Linked DNA regions of Homo sapiens. The protein of the gene in region 2 purifies or fractionates together with the protein of the main gene of each other region. This does not show direct contact. Each region holds a gene or a part of one and is shown on either strand. Other genes may lie near its edges.

What was found. The genes of interacting proteins can lie anywhere in the genome.
Region 1: the proteins of AZIN1 (region 2) and KLC1 purify together in Homo sapiens (affinity purification with mass spectrometry; 3 studies listed by BioGRID and IntAct, with this or other methods). This does not show direct contact.

Annotation. Positions count from the first base shown.
Region 1 is NC_000014.9:103,653,195-103,660,223, reverse strand, and holds part of KLC1 (kinesin light chain 1), read right to left. Parts: intron 5,661-7,029; 5' UTR 5,660-5,660; coding exon 5,399-5,659; intron 2,679-5,398; coding exon 2,448-2,678; intron 1-2,447. UniProt on the Homo sapiens protein: Kinesin is a microtubule-associated force-producing protein that may play a role in organelle transport. The light chain may function in coupling of cargo to the heavy chain or in the modulation of its ATPase activity.
Region 2 is NC_000008.11:102,833,148-102,840,176, forward strand, and holds part of AZIN1 (antizyme inhibitor 1), read right to left. Parts: intron 6,677-7,029; coding exon 6,503-6,676; intron 5,770-6,502; coding exon 5,597-5,769; intron 3,395-5,596; exon of another isoform or gene 3,244-3,394; coding exon 3,109-3,243; intron 1,601-3,108; coding exon 1,519-1,600; intron 1,117-1,518; coding exon 1,042-1,116; intron 72-1,041; coding exon 1-71.

The DNA of each region.
Region 1 (7,029 bases), on a different chromosome or scaffold from region 2:
CAGGCATGAGCCACTGCGCCCAGCCACATCTTTTAAATCAAAACATTTAGTTGGCCCCTAACCTAGAGGAGATGTGAGGGAGGATTTTGGTAAGCCTTTTGAAATAGCATGCTGTCAACTAAACTGTGTTCTCCCCAAATTCCTATGTTAAAGCCCTAACCCCCAGTGTAATGGTATTTAGAGATGAAACCTTTGGGAGGTGATCAGGATAAGATGAGCTCGAAAGTGTGGGGCCCTCATGATGGGATTAGTGCCCTCATAAAAAGAGACACCAGAGAGCTTACTCCCTCTCTCTCTGTACCATATGAGAACACAAAGAGATGGCAGCAGTCTGCAAGCCAGAAAGAAGGCCCTCCCCAGAACCGGACCCTGCTGGTACCCTGATCTCGGACTTCCAGAACTATGAGAAAATAAATGTTAAGCCATCCAGCCCGTGGTATTTGTTACAGTAGCCCAAGCAGATGAAGACAGAGGGGAAATGCAGGTTTGCTGGTGCTACGCAAAAAACTGTTTCAGTAGTCTTAGGATGGGGATTCGAACGAGACACACAAATGTGCACCTCTCTAGTATTCTGATTATGTACATGAACATGTCTGGCATCATACAGGTATTTAAAAAACGTTAGTTCCAAATGCAATGTGGAACACTGGACTAGGTCCTAGCACAGAAAAGAGATACTAGTGGAAGGCCTGGTGACATCCAACCAAGTCTGTGTTTCAGTTAACAGTAAAGTGTTGATGTTAATATCTTAGTTCTGACCACTGTTCTATGATTATGGACGATCAGGGGAGACTGGGTTATGGGCACATCAATTTTCTTCTCTAACTTTTCAACTTTTCAATCAATTTAAAATTATTCCATTGGAAACTTGAGAGGAGGGTAAAATTTTTAAAATTAAAAATAAGTAAAATAAAATAATTCCAAAATTTAGAAATTTTCTTTAAAAAGAAGTTAACTGAAGCCGGTCGTGGTGGCTCACGCCTGTAATCCCAGCACTTTGGGAGGCCGAGGCGGGGGGATGACCTGAGGTCAGGAGTGGCCAACATGGTGAAACCCCATCTCTACTTAAAATACAAAAATTAGCCAGTCGTGGCGGTACGCACCTGTAATCCCAGCTACTTGGAAGGCTGAGAAGGGAGAATCGCTTGAACCCAGGAGGTGGAGGCTGCAGTGAGCCAAGATCGCGCCATTGCACTCCAGCCTGGGGTACAAAAGCGAGACTTCGTCTCAAAAAAAAAGTAAAAAAAAAAATAAAAAGAAGTTAACTGGCTGGGCGCAGTGGCTCACACCTGTAATCCCAGCACTTTGGGAGGCCGAGGCAGGCAGATCACAAGGTCAGGAGATCAAGACCATCCTGGCTAACGCAATGAAACCCTATCTCTACTAAAAATACAAAAAATTGGCCAGGCGTGGTGGCACACACCTGTAGTCCCAGCTACTCGGGAGGCTGAGGCAGGAGAATCGCTGGAGCCCGGGAGGTGGAGGTTGCAGTGAGCCAAGATCGTGCCACTGCACTCCAGCCTGGGTGACAGAGTGAGACTCCATCTCAAAAAAAAAAAAAAAAAAAGTTAACTGAATCAGAAATAAATGTTGAATGAAAAATAACTGAGACTAGGATAAACATCCAAATAGAGCCAACAGAGAAAGAAGGCTGGGCATGGTGGCTCCCACCTGGAATACCAGCACTTTGGGAGGCTGAGGTGGGCAGATCACTTGAGGCCAGGAGTTCAAGACCAGCCTGGCCAAAACAGTGAAACCTCATCTCTACTAAAAAAAAAAAAAAAAAAAAAAAAAACTTAGCTGGGCATGGTGTCACACACCTGTAATCCCAGCTACTCCAGAGGCTGAGGCAGGAGAATCACATGAACCCGGGAGATGGAGGTTGCAGTAAGCCAAGATTGTGCCATTGCACTCCAGCCTGAGTGACAGAGCGAGACTCCTTGTAAAAAAAAGAAGAAGAAGAAAACCAAGATCGTTTCTTCCCCTGCAGATACAGAAAGATAAGCTGGCAAGGGAAGCCAAGGGGAGGATGAGAGAGGCGGCAAGAGAGCCAGGTGGTGTCCAGAGGGCCAGGGGAGTTTCAAAGAGAATGGCAATGCCAAGAGCACCCACCCTAAGGGGCAGAGAGGTTGCCCAGAGTCCAAATTCAGACGGCCAGATTGGACCACTGCTAGACCAGCAGCTGATGGCATGGAAGCCAAGCTACAGAGGGGCAAGGAAGCTCCAGAGCCTAAGCTGGGGCAGACCTCGGGACAGACCTCGGGGCAGACCTTGTTGAAGGTAATGGTGTCTCTCTGGATTGTGGCTTATATTTACAAAACATTTTTGCATGTTCTAATGTTCTAATATGTTCTAATATGAAAAGAATATGGCAAACAGAACCTCTATGACTTTCCCAGTGACTCCATTTTAAACATTAGCACCACATTTGCTACAGAGCCACTCACGGATGGGGAAATGTCGTCATCATATTTTTTTAGCTGATTCATAAACTCCAGATGCTTCTTCTCCTCCTCCAGTTGAGCCACAGACTGCTCACTCTTCTGCAGTTTCTGCTGCGTGTTGGCCAGTTCATCCCGTAGCCACTGATTCTCCTGGCACAGACGACGAACCTGCGCACGCAGTTTCTGCTTCTCGGACTCCACAGCATTCAGGTGATTTGACAAAGCCATCATAACCTGAGCAGACAGAAACGTGTGCAGCACTGTGGCACGTTGTCCAGCAAGAGTCCCTCCCACCCGTGCGAACATTCTGTGGCTGGGGCTGTAGCTTACACTCGCAGATATTTTCTCCAAAGTACATATAAGTACAATCTGCCATTTACTTCTCTTTTCCCCTTCAGCCACAGACTACAAAGCAGGGTATGATAAAGAATATCACACGCTCAGAATGCCTACAAAAAAATACTTATTTTTTTGAAGAGCATGCCAAATGAACTAGCAATGAAAACACAGCTACCCTTCTGATGAAACTGTATTATTTTACTTTCTATCAAGATGGGCCCAACATAATTTTTTATAGACCCTTTCCCATGTGTAAGACCTCGTGTACACACATGCATGTCTGCGCACAGAGTGCATGTTGGTGAAGGGCTGCAAGTGGGGGTCAGAGAACAGTGCACATACAAATCTTCCTTGATGTTCCAAGGTGAGAGAAGACATCTCTGTAGCTACCACCAAGAGTAAGAATGCACTGGTGCACTCATAAGCTTATGTTTATGTCATAAAATCCAGGGGCCACTCCAGGGCTCTGCCTACAGAGTGCTCACTGGTTTCTGGAACAGACCAGCGTGAGGCTGTGGCAAGTTCCTAGGAGCATAAGAGCACAAACAGCTAGGAGCTGGCTGGCAGCAATCTGTTCTCTCTTTAGAACATACATCTGCCCATCCCTCTCATAACATAATAACCAGGTTATTATCCTCCTAGGTTTAAAACCTGAAACTCCAGAAGGTGGGACCTTTTCTTCCTTCTTTTTTTAAAACTCTTATCTGCGACACCAAAAAAGCAAGTTTAAATTCATGTCACCTGTTCTCAAGGTAACAGAACTTGAGAAATAATACGTTCACAATATCCAAACAGAGCTACAGTTCTGCAACTCAAGGCTGTAACATGGTTAGGATGAAGACTCTAAAATCAGGGTGTGGGCAGTCACTTCCTCTATGAAAGCAGAAACCGCTGGCCAGCAGCCCCTCTTCTGCTCTATTCACTCACTAAACTAGAGAATGCTAAGAAAGAAGCAAAGCTTTGGTATATTTAATTTTACCTAAGATATGCTGACAGAGCCAGAAGTTATCAGGAGAGAGTATTTAAAAACCTAGATGTTTCCAGTGTTTTCATCTCTATGTCAAGCATGATATTATAGAAACAAAGGTTAGTCAAAGATATGAAGCAATCTGGCCCTGGGATTGCAGAGACCATCACCCACTGGCCAGTGTCCATTCTCCTTCCTTAGGCTTAAGGACCTGCCACTGTAAGTGGGAAGACAACATTCCCCAGTCTCCCACTCACCCAGGTACAGCCATAAGGTCTGGCCAATGCAATGTAAGCACTGCTGTACACATCATCAAAGCAGCAGCCTTCAAGGAAGGAGGCACGTCCTTCCTTTCCCTTCCCCTATGCTAGAACAGGGCCACATGGAGCTCACTCTCAGTCCCCAAGACAGGCTGCCAAGGTGCAGTGTGGCAGATGTTAGGAACCTGAGTATCCCCGATGACTGTGTAGCTACAGAACCCGTCCAGGAGAGTGTACCTCAGTACTTATTTGACAAACATCTTGTGGTTTAAGCCACTGTTTTTGTTTTTTTGATACTGGCAGCCAAATCAAATCCTAAATGATACACAGCAGTATCCACTATTTTGGATCCGCTTTTCAAAATTCAGAGAGGCCCTGAGGTCAGGAGTTCAAGACCAGCCTGGCCAACATTTTAGTTTCTACTAAAAATACAAAAAATTAGCCAGGAATGGTGGTATGTGCCTGTAATCCCAGCTACTTGGGAGGCTGAGGCAGGAGAATCACTTGAACCCGGGGGACAGAGGTTGCAGTGATCTGAGATTGAGCCATTGCACTCCAGCCTGGGCGGCGAGAGCAAACACTGTCTCAAAAAAATAAAAATAAAAATAAAATTCAGAGGCCGGGCATGGTGGCTCGCGCCTGTAATCCCAACACTTTGCTGAGGCAGGTGGATCACGTGAGGTTGGGAGTTCAAGACCAGCCTAACCAACATGGAGAAACCCTGTCTCTACTAAAAATACAAAATTAGCCAGGTGTGGTGGCCCATGCCTGTAATCCCAGCTACTTGGGAGGCTGAGGCAGGAGAATCATTTGAGCCCAGGAGGCAGAGGATGCAGTGAGCCGAGACTGCATCACTGCACTCCAGCCTGGGCAGCAAGAGCAAAACTCCATCTCAATCAATCAATCAATACAATTCTGATAGGCCCAAATCAATAGTAATTTATTAACATACAGAACACATGATCTGTTTTGTTTTGTTTTTTCTTTGAGAAAAAGTCTCGCTCTGTCACCCAGGCTGGAGTGCAGTGATGCAATTTTGGCTCCCTGCAACCTCTGCCTCCCAGGTTCAAGTGATTCTCCTGCCTCAAGCCTGCCTAGTAGCTGGATTACACACGCCAGCCACCAGGCCCGGCTAATTTTTGTATTTTTAGTAGAGTCAGGGTTTCGCTATGTTGGCCAGGCTGGTCTCAAACTCCTGACCTCAAGTGATCCACCTGCCTCAGCCTCCCAAAGTGCTTGGATTACAGGCCTGAGCCACACCGCACTCGGCCTGGATCTGTTATTCTATAATCATCTTTCCTCTTCTTTAGTGAAACTGCTTATTTCAAACAAGTCTCCATTTTACCATCAAAAGTTCCTGATAACGTCTGAGTCATTCTCACTCGTACCTGTGCCTCACTCAGGCCGAGCTCCAACATCTCCAGTGACTTCCGGATCATGTTTGATTTCTCCTCCACCAAATTACTTTCATCATCTTTCTTCAAACACTTCAGTGTCTCCAGCAAACTTTGTAAAATGGAATTGTGCTCATTCTTCAAAGCTTCCAGCCCCTGAATTACTTGCTTTGTCTTAGAAATAATTTCATCCTGTGTAAGCTTCTCCAACTTGTCTTCCTTTATGTACACCATTGTGGACATGTTGTCATACATTCTGGAATGAAAAAAGAAAAAGAAATTAGATCCCTCATTACAGGTTTCATTTCTGTTACATCAAGTAAATATGAAAATTTTTTAATTAACATTTTATAGGGGAATAATAAATATGCACATTTGTAATTTATGACCTTGAAATACCATATTCTGCAGTTTCTGTTTTTCCTTTGCAGACACATTTAATTACTTTTCTGGTTTATGTCTTAATTCTTTTTTATGACAGCAACTGAAATTAATGCCAAAGATTAAAAGCAGCAAAACATCTAAATGGCATTTCCAAAACACATAGCCTCGGTGAACAACATTTTTTCTCAGAATGTTTGCAAGCCTTTTTCTCTTCCTAATGAAATGCAGGAAGAACACTACATTCTTGGTAAAATGTTTAACTGGACAAAGGCTTGAAAAGGAGTCACACAGCTGGAAGAAGAAAGAAAAACCAGCCAAAGAACATGGAACAGGAAGAGCAGCAGGGGAGGAGCAGACCTGGAAGACACAGGGCATCAAGGACAGGTGCAGCACGGTCACCGGGCAGGCTCACAGATGAGGATGGCACAGCGAAGCACCACCAGGGCCAGGCCCAGGGTGATGTGATGCAATGTCTGGAAGGGGCTTTCAAACACCAAAGTGAGAAAGAAAAGGGGGAGGAAAGGGGAATATAAAAACAGCATCATTTGTGCTGTTGTGCCTGACAGCCGCTGTCACTGAGCAATGGTTCCCTCTGCTAGCCTCTCTCCTTTTTTCTAAGTCTTAAAAACCCATAGTTAAGTTTAAAAAACAGAAAGATAGTGAGCAGTGATCTTTTTCGGCACAGTGACAGGGATGGAGGCAAGATTACACGTCAGAGTTATTTCCTTCACAGCACTGCCACTGTCTAAAATCTCACGATTCATTAAGTGTCTAATGTCACCTTGAATATAAGCTCTTATTTAAAAAGGCAGGACAGCCAGGCATGGTGGCTCATTCCTATAATTCCAGCACTTTGGGAGGCCAAGGCAGGCGGATCACTTGATGGCAGGAGTTCAAAACCAGCCGGCCAACACGGCGAAACCCTGTCTCAACTAAAAATACAAAAATTAGGTGAGTGTGCTGGCACACGCCTGTGGTCCCAGCTACTCAGGGGGCTGAGGCACGAGAATCACTTGAGCCCGGGAGGCAGAGGTTGCAGTGAGCCAAGATCTCACTACTGCACTCCAGCCTGGGTGACAGAGCGAGACTCTGCCTAAATAAATAAATAAAAATAAATGAAGTAAAATTAGCTGGGTGGTATGTGCAGGTATTCCTTGCTACCCAGGAGGCTCAGTGAGGCACAAGGATCGCTTGAGTCCAGGAATTTGAGGTGACAGTCAGCTATGATGGTACCTCTGCAC
Region 2 (7,029 bases):
TCTGAAATTATCTTAACACCAGATCCTTCAGGAAAGTAGATATCCAACAGAGGGCTGATAACATGATTAACCTATGGATTTTAAATGCCACAGTATGGTTTCAATATTGGATTAGATAATTCGCAATATTCAGAGATTGATATTAACAAAATTTTCTAGGAAAATGAAGCAGTTCCAATCACAGATCATGAACCTTAGCAACTTTGTAGTTATCTCCAAGCAATTAATTAGGCATGCTTTCAAGTCAGTTTATTTTGTAACTATCAGAATGGCATTAATTTTAAAAATAGCTCTAATAACAAATACCCACTGGTATTTGTTTTTGTTTTTTTTTAAGTCATTTTTCTATACTTGATCACTAAAAACAGAAGTAAAATTTTCAAATCATAGTTTCTAGATATCACAGAAGGAAGGAGGGCAGAGCAGGAAGGTGAGAAACAGGTGTGACGTGTATCTGGCCTAAATGCTAAAGTTGGCTGGGAGTGGTGGCTCACACCTGTAACCCCAAAACTTTGGGAGGCTGGGGCAGGAGGATCACTTGGGGACAGGAGGATCATTTGAGGCCAGGAGTTCCGAGACCAGCCTGGGCAATATAGAAAGACTCAATTTTTTTTTTTTTTTTTTTTTAAGTCCCAGCTACTTGGGAGGTTGAAGCAGGAGGATCGCTTGAGCCCAGGAGTTGGAAGCTATAGTGAGCTATAATTGCGCCACTCCACTCCAGCCTGGGCAACACAGGAAGACTTTAAAAAAAAAAAAAAAAAGGTAGTAGTGAAGTTTTCTAAGTATTAAATCATTTGTGCCATTAAGTACAGAAACACAACTGAAATAGAAAATGTTTTATGATAATGTTCAAAGAATTCTATCAAACTTTTCAAAGTTAGCTAGGTCTACTAACTGCCTATTCCTTTTCTAAGAACATAATTTTAAAGAGATGTTATAGGGTTTAGTTTCTGCCATTGTAAAAATCCTGCTCTACACATCCACCACTTAAGTAACAAAGAAAGCAATTATTCTGTTAATGTCATCTACTGAGAAGTTTACCTCTTCCAATTGAAATTCAGTTCCCGTGAATCCTCCACCAATGTCTAACATGTTCATCGTAAAGCCAATTTCTCCCTAGAGATGGAAAAAAAAAATTTAAATGTTTTTCCAAATTGTAATGGATATGAGAACATTTTAAAAACCCCCTCCTAGGGAGGTAAATATCTGTTCTGATCTTTAGTACAGCAAATTCTTGGTTTTTTACTGATAGAAACAGATTATTCAATGTTAGGTATGCTGTCTCTTTGATTTTATTTGTACTCTCTTCTAGACTTATGCAAGTAAATTACTATTTCACTCCTTTACCTGCTTAAAAGGTGTGACTGTACAGAGCTCTGAATGCTTATATAATAAAAATGAGGTGTGTGTCACGTTGAATGTAGTCAGAGTAATTCACACAGGCAGAAAATACTTAGTCTTTAACTTAACATCCTGGCTAAAATAAAATATCAAAATAACTTAAAAGAAAGAACTTACAGCCATGTCAAACACACATCGAGCATCAGATAGAGCATGTACATATACTTGAGATTCTTTGCAAGCACTCGAAACATGAAATCTGAAACACATAGAATACTAAATTTAAAGGAGCAGAAAGTTGTAGAGACACCTCCTGTAATTTCTTTCAACTGTCACTCATCATATTCATACCATTAAGTATCCCCATTAACTTTACCAAATATTTAAAGTATTAGAAGCATTAGCTTCTAATTACCCAAAAGTTACAGTACCAGCTTTATAGAAAAGGCAATGCCAAGATAAAACTGTAATTCTATAAACAAAAATTCTTAACAATAAGTCAATTATCAGTACTGTTCCACGGTTATACAATAAGGTGTGCTTTTATGTATATGTGGCACTTTTATGTTTATATAGTGAAGTAACAAGCACTACCAAATCGTATCACATTCAGTTGAGCATAAAACTGAACATTCAATTTTACCCAACCAAATACAAAAATGTGTCTGTTGTGAAATAAATAAAAATGAACATTAATCAAGCTGAGTAACAGCATTACTATTATTCACTAGTATTACTAGTGATAAAGTTTCAGAATAGAATACTTCCTGATTGTGGCAGTGGTCACACAAGTACTAAAATCCATAGAACTGTACCCGTAAAGTCCATTCTTCTTTTCCCTTCATCTATTCGAGATAGTACTTCATTAATTTTTATGTTGACTTAAATTAAAACTTAAAACTAGACTGACATGGAATGTTATCTATTGTGTAAGGCACAGCATGATCCCATTCTTTGTTTAAAAGACTACCACCTATTTATGTACAAAGTAGTATAGAAAGATACACAATAAGGCCAGGCACAGAGGCTCACATCTGTAATCCCACCACTTTGGGAGGCCAAGGCAGGAAGATTGCTTGAGCCAGGAGTTTGAGGCTGCAGTGAGCCGTGATCGTGCCACTGCACTCCAGCATGGGAGACAGAATGAGATACTATCTCAAAAAATAAATAATAAAATTAAAGAAAGATACACAATACATCTTTGTGAGTGTTTGAAAAAGCAAGACCTTTTTACTTTAGTAAAAGTAGCAATGGGCTGGCAAATAACATCTAGGGCTTAGTGTTACTATGCCTGTAATTAGTTCTGAGGCTATTATCAAGTATTTGAACCTCTTGGAGTCTCGGTTTCCTCACATATAAAATTAAAAGGCTAAAGCAAAGTCTAATTTATTGAAGTCCCCCAGAGTAATCGTTAAAAGGACAAAAAAGTCTGACACTTTTATTTTCATTAAGAATTCTAGCAAATCCCCTCCCATCCAATTTAAAAGGCGGCGATTTAAGTTACTCTGCACTAACTGAATCAAAATATTATTTGCTATTCTTTTTATTGTGGGGAAGGAGGTACAGTCACAAAACAGTATGAAAAGGGACAAGGCATATTTAAGTTGTTTTGCCTAAACTAAGAAGAAAACACATACATGTGTGTTAAAAGACTAGAAAAAATTGCATCTTAGATTTCATGCAAATAAAGTCTTAAATCAATAACCAGAAAGACAGGTTACCACCATAAAATGTTCACAGCTTTAAAAGTTTAAAACAAATACTCACTTAACCCCAATTATTTGGACATCAAGTTCCTTAGCACATTCCAAGAGATGCCTACAGTTCTTCAGGGTAGTGCCAAACTTCATGTTACCCTCTTCACCTCCAATATTATCTTCTGTTGCAATATGTAGTAAGACCCTAAGAGAAGGGGAGATGATTGGGGCAGAGTTGGTTTACATCATCATCAGCACATGTGAAGCCTGAAGATTGTAGGAAGTGTGTTGATTATGTTGCCAGTGCTCCCAAATCCAGCGACGGATGAATCAAGTGAACCTAATGAAAAACAATCCTGTATAGAGAAAAAACTAGCAATTAGGGCCTAAAGCATGAAGCTTACAAGGATGGGATTTTGGAAAATGCAGCAAGTTAAGACTCTGTTGTAGCATCAAGAGTTGGTTGGGCTCTGTAATGAAAGACGACATTACTTTCAAATGAAGTCCATCAGTCCATAAATCCACCTAGGAAGACTAAATTGAATAGCAATGCCATCATTGTCTTTCAATAAAAATATCAGGGCTTTAAATGTCTTCAAATTTCTTTGATTGTGCTAACTAGCTAAACCTCCATGGTTACTGCAAACATTCTTCCTACTAACATTGTTACATCCCAGCAGGTCTCTAACTGGAAAAAAATAGGAAGCATTTTTTAAATTTTTTTTTCTTTTTTTTCTGAGATGGAGTTTCACTCTGTCGCCCAGGCTGGAGTGCAGTGGCGCAATTTCAGCTCACTGCAACCTCCGCCTCATGAGAGTGCCTCCTGAGTTCAAGCAATTCTCCTGCCTCAGCCTCCCAAAGTAGCTGGAAATACAAGGGTGCACCACCACGCCCAGCTAATTTTTTTTATTTTTAGTGGAGACAGGGTTTCACCATGTTGGCCAGGCTGGTCTCAAACTCCTGACTTCAAGTGATCCACCCGCCTCGGCCTCCCCAAGTGCTGGGATTACAGGCATGAGCTACTGCGCCCAACCCAGAAAGCTTTTTAAAAAATTATTTCATGTGTTTAAACAGCAGCCTTCTAGTCTACTGATTCAAATCTATTTGGTATTTCCTTCCAAACCATGGCAACCAAGACAAGATGACTAAAACTGATTAAATTTCTTTAATTTCAGGAGCTGAGTAATTACAAACTGCTAGAAGTTGAAAATATACAAATTCTTTTTGTGTAACTGTTTTCCTATGGATGTAATAATTACATAAACTAAGAAGGTTAATAATATGGCCATGAAAATACAGCTATGGCCCTAATTTGATAATCAGAGGACAAGATTGATGAAAGCAAAAATTATTCTAAGGTTAGAATCAGCTCCATCAAGAAGATGCCAGTCCACAATCTAACATACTAAACATCACAAATCACAGCTTGTCTTCAGAGGATCACAGAACAATATTTTTTAGAAAAACAAGTGGTTCCCTAGAATTTTCCCAACAAGGCTTTTATCCACACAAAGATTTACCAGAGTAATCAATGCTGTCAGGATATCTTAAGTACACCATTAAAGTCAGTATGAAAATTATAGACATACAAAGAAAATACAGATAGAATTCATTTCCGGAAACACACATAACTCATTAAAAAGTAAGCCAACAACTGCATAATTCAATATGCTTTTAGCATATTCTTAAGCCCTCTCGATATACCAGTTTGTGAAAACATAAAATTTGCCTTAAATCTTTTTGCTTTTAAAAAAGTAAACCTTTTTATGAGGGAGTCTTGCTCTGTTGCCCAGGCTGGAGTGCAGTGGCTCGATCTTGGCTCACTGCAGCCTCCGGCTCCTGGGTTCAAGGGATTCTCTTGCCTCAGCTTCCCAAGTAGCTGGGATTACAGGCGCAGGCCACCTTGACCTTAAATGATCCACCAGCCTCAGTCTCCTAAAGTGCTGGGATTACAGGTGTGAGCCACTGCGCCCAGCCTTTAAAAAGTAAACTTTCTAATCAAGAAAAAAAAAAAATTCTCTGGATACATGAAGATGCAAGTAAAAAATTAAACTTCATGTTCAAAAATAAAAGTATTAGCCTTAAAAACAAAACCCCCCAAATCTATGGTCTAGGCTTCGAAGACACTGTCAGTAAAGATGACCATTCAAGAACTATGGCCTAGGGTAGATTAAATCCTCAGCTAAACAGGAAAAAATGCTGACCAAAGTTTATCCTGTTCCTAACGTTATCAAACATCAAACAAAGTTATAGAAATAATGAAAATACAGCCATGGCCCTAATTTGATTATCACACCAACTATCAAGGATTCCTTGAAGATTATTAGATCATATCCCCAAACTGCTCTTATTTTTTTAAATTCCAATTCCACATGAAGGATCAGAGGTAGAGAGCCAATAAAATGTTACTAGTGTTTCCCACAGAGGCCCTTTAAATAAGTTATAATTATGATACACATCATTGCCCTACCACAAATGCTCCTTTCTTCCCAGACAAAAGACAAACCCAACCCTCTAAGTGCTAAATAATATTTTCAAGTACTTAATTTTATACTTACTTGGCATTTGGGTGATTACGTGCAATTTTCTTCAATTCAATTTCATTGTCACATGTCAGGATATTCACTCCAACTTTTGCTGCATACTTTATCTGAGACACTTGCTTGCAAGGACTTATGTAAATAATGTTTTCTGGAGGTACACCCAACTCTTGCACTAAAGCCATTTCATTCTGTGAAAATGAGGTTAAAGTGAGAATACATAATGTCACAGTTCATATTCTGGTAATGCTTCCTCTAATACTATTACCCCCACCCCTTTTAAAACCAGGGTCTCACTCTTTGTATTCCAGGCTGAAGTGCAATAGCACAATCATAGCTCAATGCAGCCTCCATCTCTGGGGCTGCTCAAGTGATCCTCCTGCCTCAGCCTCCCAAAGTGCTACGAGTACAGGTATGAGTCACTGTGCCTAGCCAAACCAATATTTTTATTTAAAAACATAAATAAATAAAAAGTGAGACGAGGTCTCACTATGTTGCCCAGGCTGATCCTAAACTCCTGGCTCAAGCAACTCTCACCTCAGCCTCTCAAAGTGGTGGGATTACAGGTGTTAGCCATCGCTCCTGGCCTAAACATTACTAAAAAGAAGCACCAAAGAAATCTCAGAGTTTAGATATCTGCTGTAGTTTGGTCTAGAAGTAGCTCTAGCCTAAGAATGAGGAACAAATTAAAGTTTTCAATTAATAAAGATAAAACGTTTCAAAGGCTCATTACACTGAAACTTCCCTTTCATTGGTGCACTTGAAAAGCTTGTAATTTTCCAACATGAGGCTGGAGATTTAAACAATTATTTTGAAACTCCATCCAAAAGTCAAACTTCCTTGCATTTGTTCTCTAACCGCTGTAACTACATTAAGTTAAATTATTCAATGTTTCAGTTTAGTTAAAAAATGAAAAATACTTACTTTACTGGAACAAGCAAATCCGGTTCCAAGAGCTGCCAAAATCTCAAGTACAGCTGGAGCAGAGTTGCACTTCACTGTGTAGAATGGCTTTATCTGAGCCACTACATTCTGCCATTGACTGTGTTTCTTCACAATCTTTCCAAGATCTCCCACAAAAAATGCATTTTTCCCTGTCTATTATGGTTATAAAAAAAAAGACAAATATGAACAAAAAACCATTGAAAATCAAGTATCAAAACAGGAAAGAACACCTCTTTTCCTCCACAAATATATGGGTCAAGACATATATTTACATACAGTAATACATTTAAAGCTTGTTAACTAGATTTAGTAAACATTAAAAGAGACTCTGAATACATTTGTTCTTTCTTCTTATATTTGATTACTTTTGCTGTGCTACACTAGCATATAAAATATTCTCCCCTTTGAGATAAAAAAACTATTATCAATTACAGTGACAAAAGTCAGAATGAAACTGCCTTGATTTTACTTTTTGGCAGTTGAAGGAAGGGAACCTATTTTCTCCC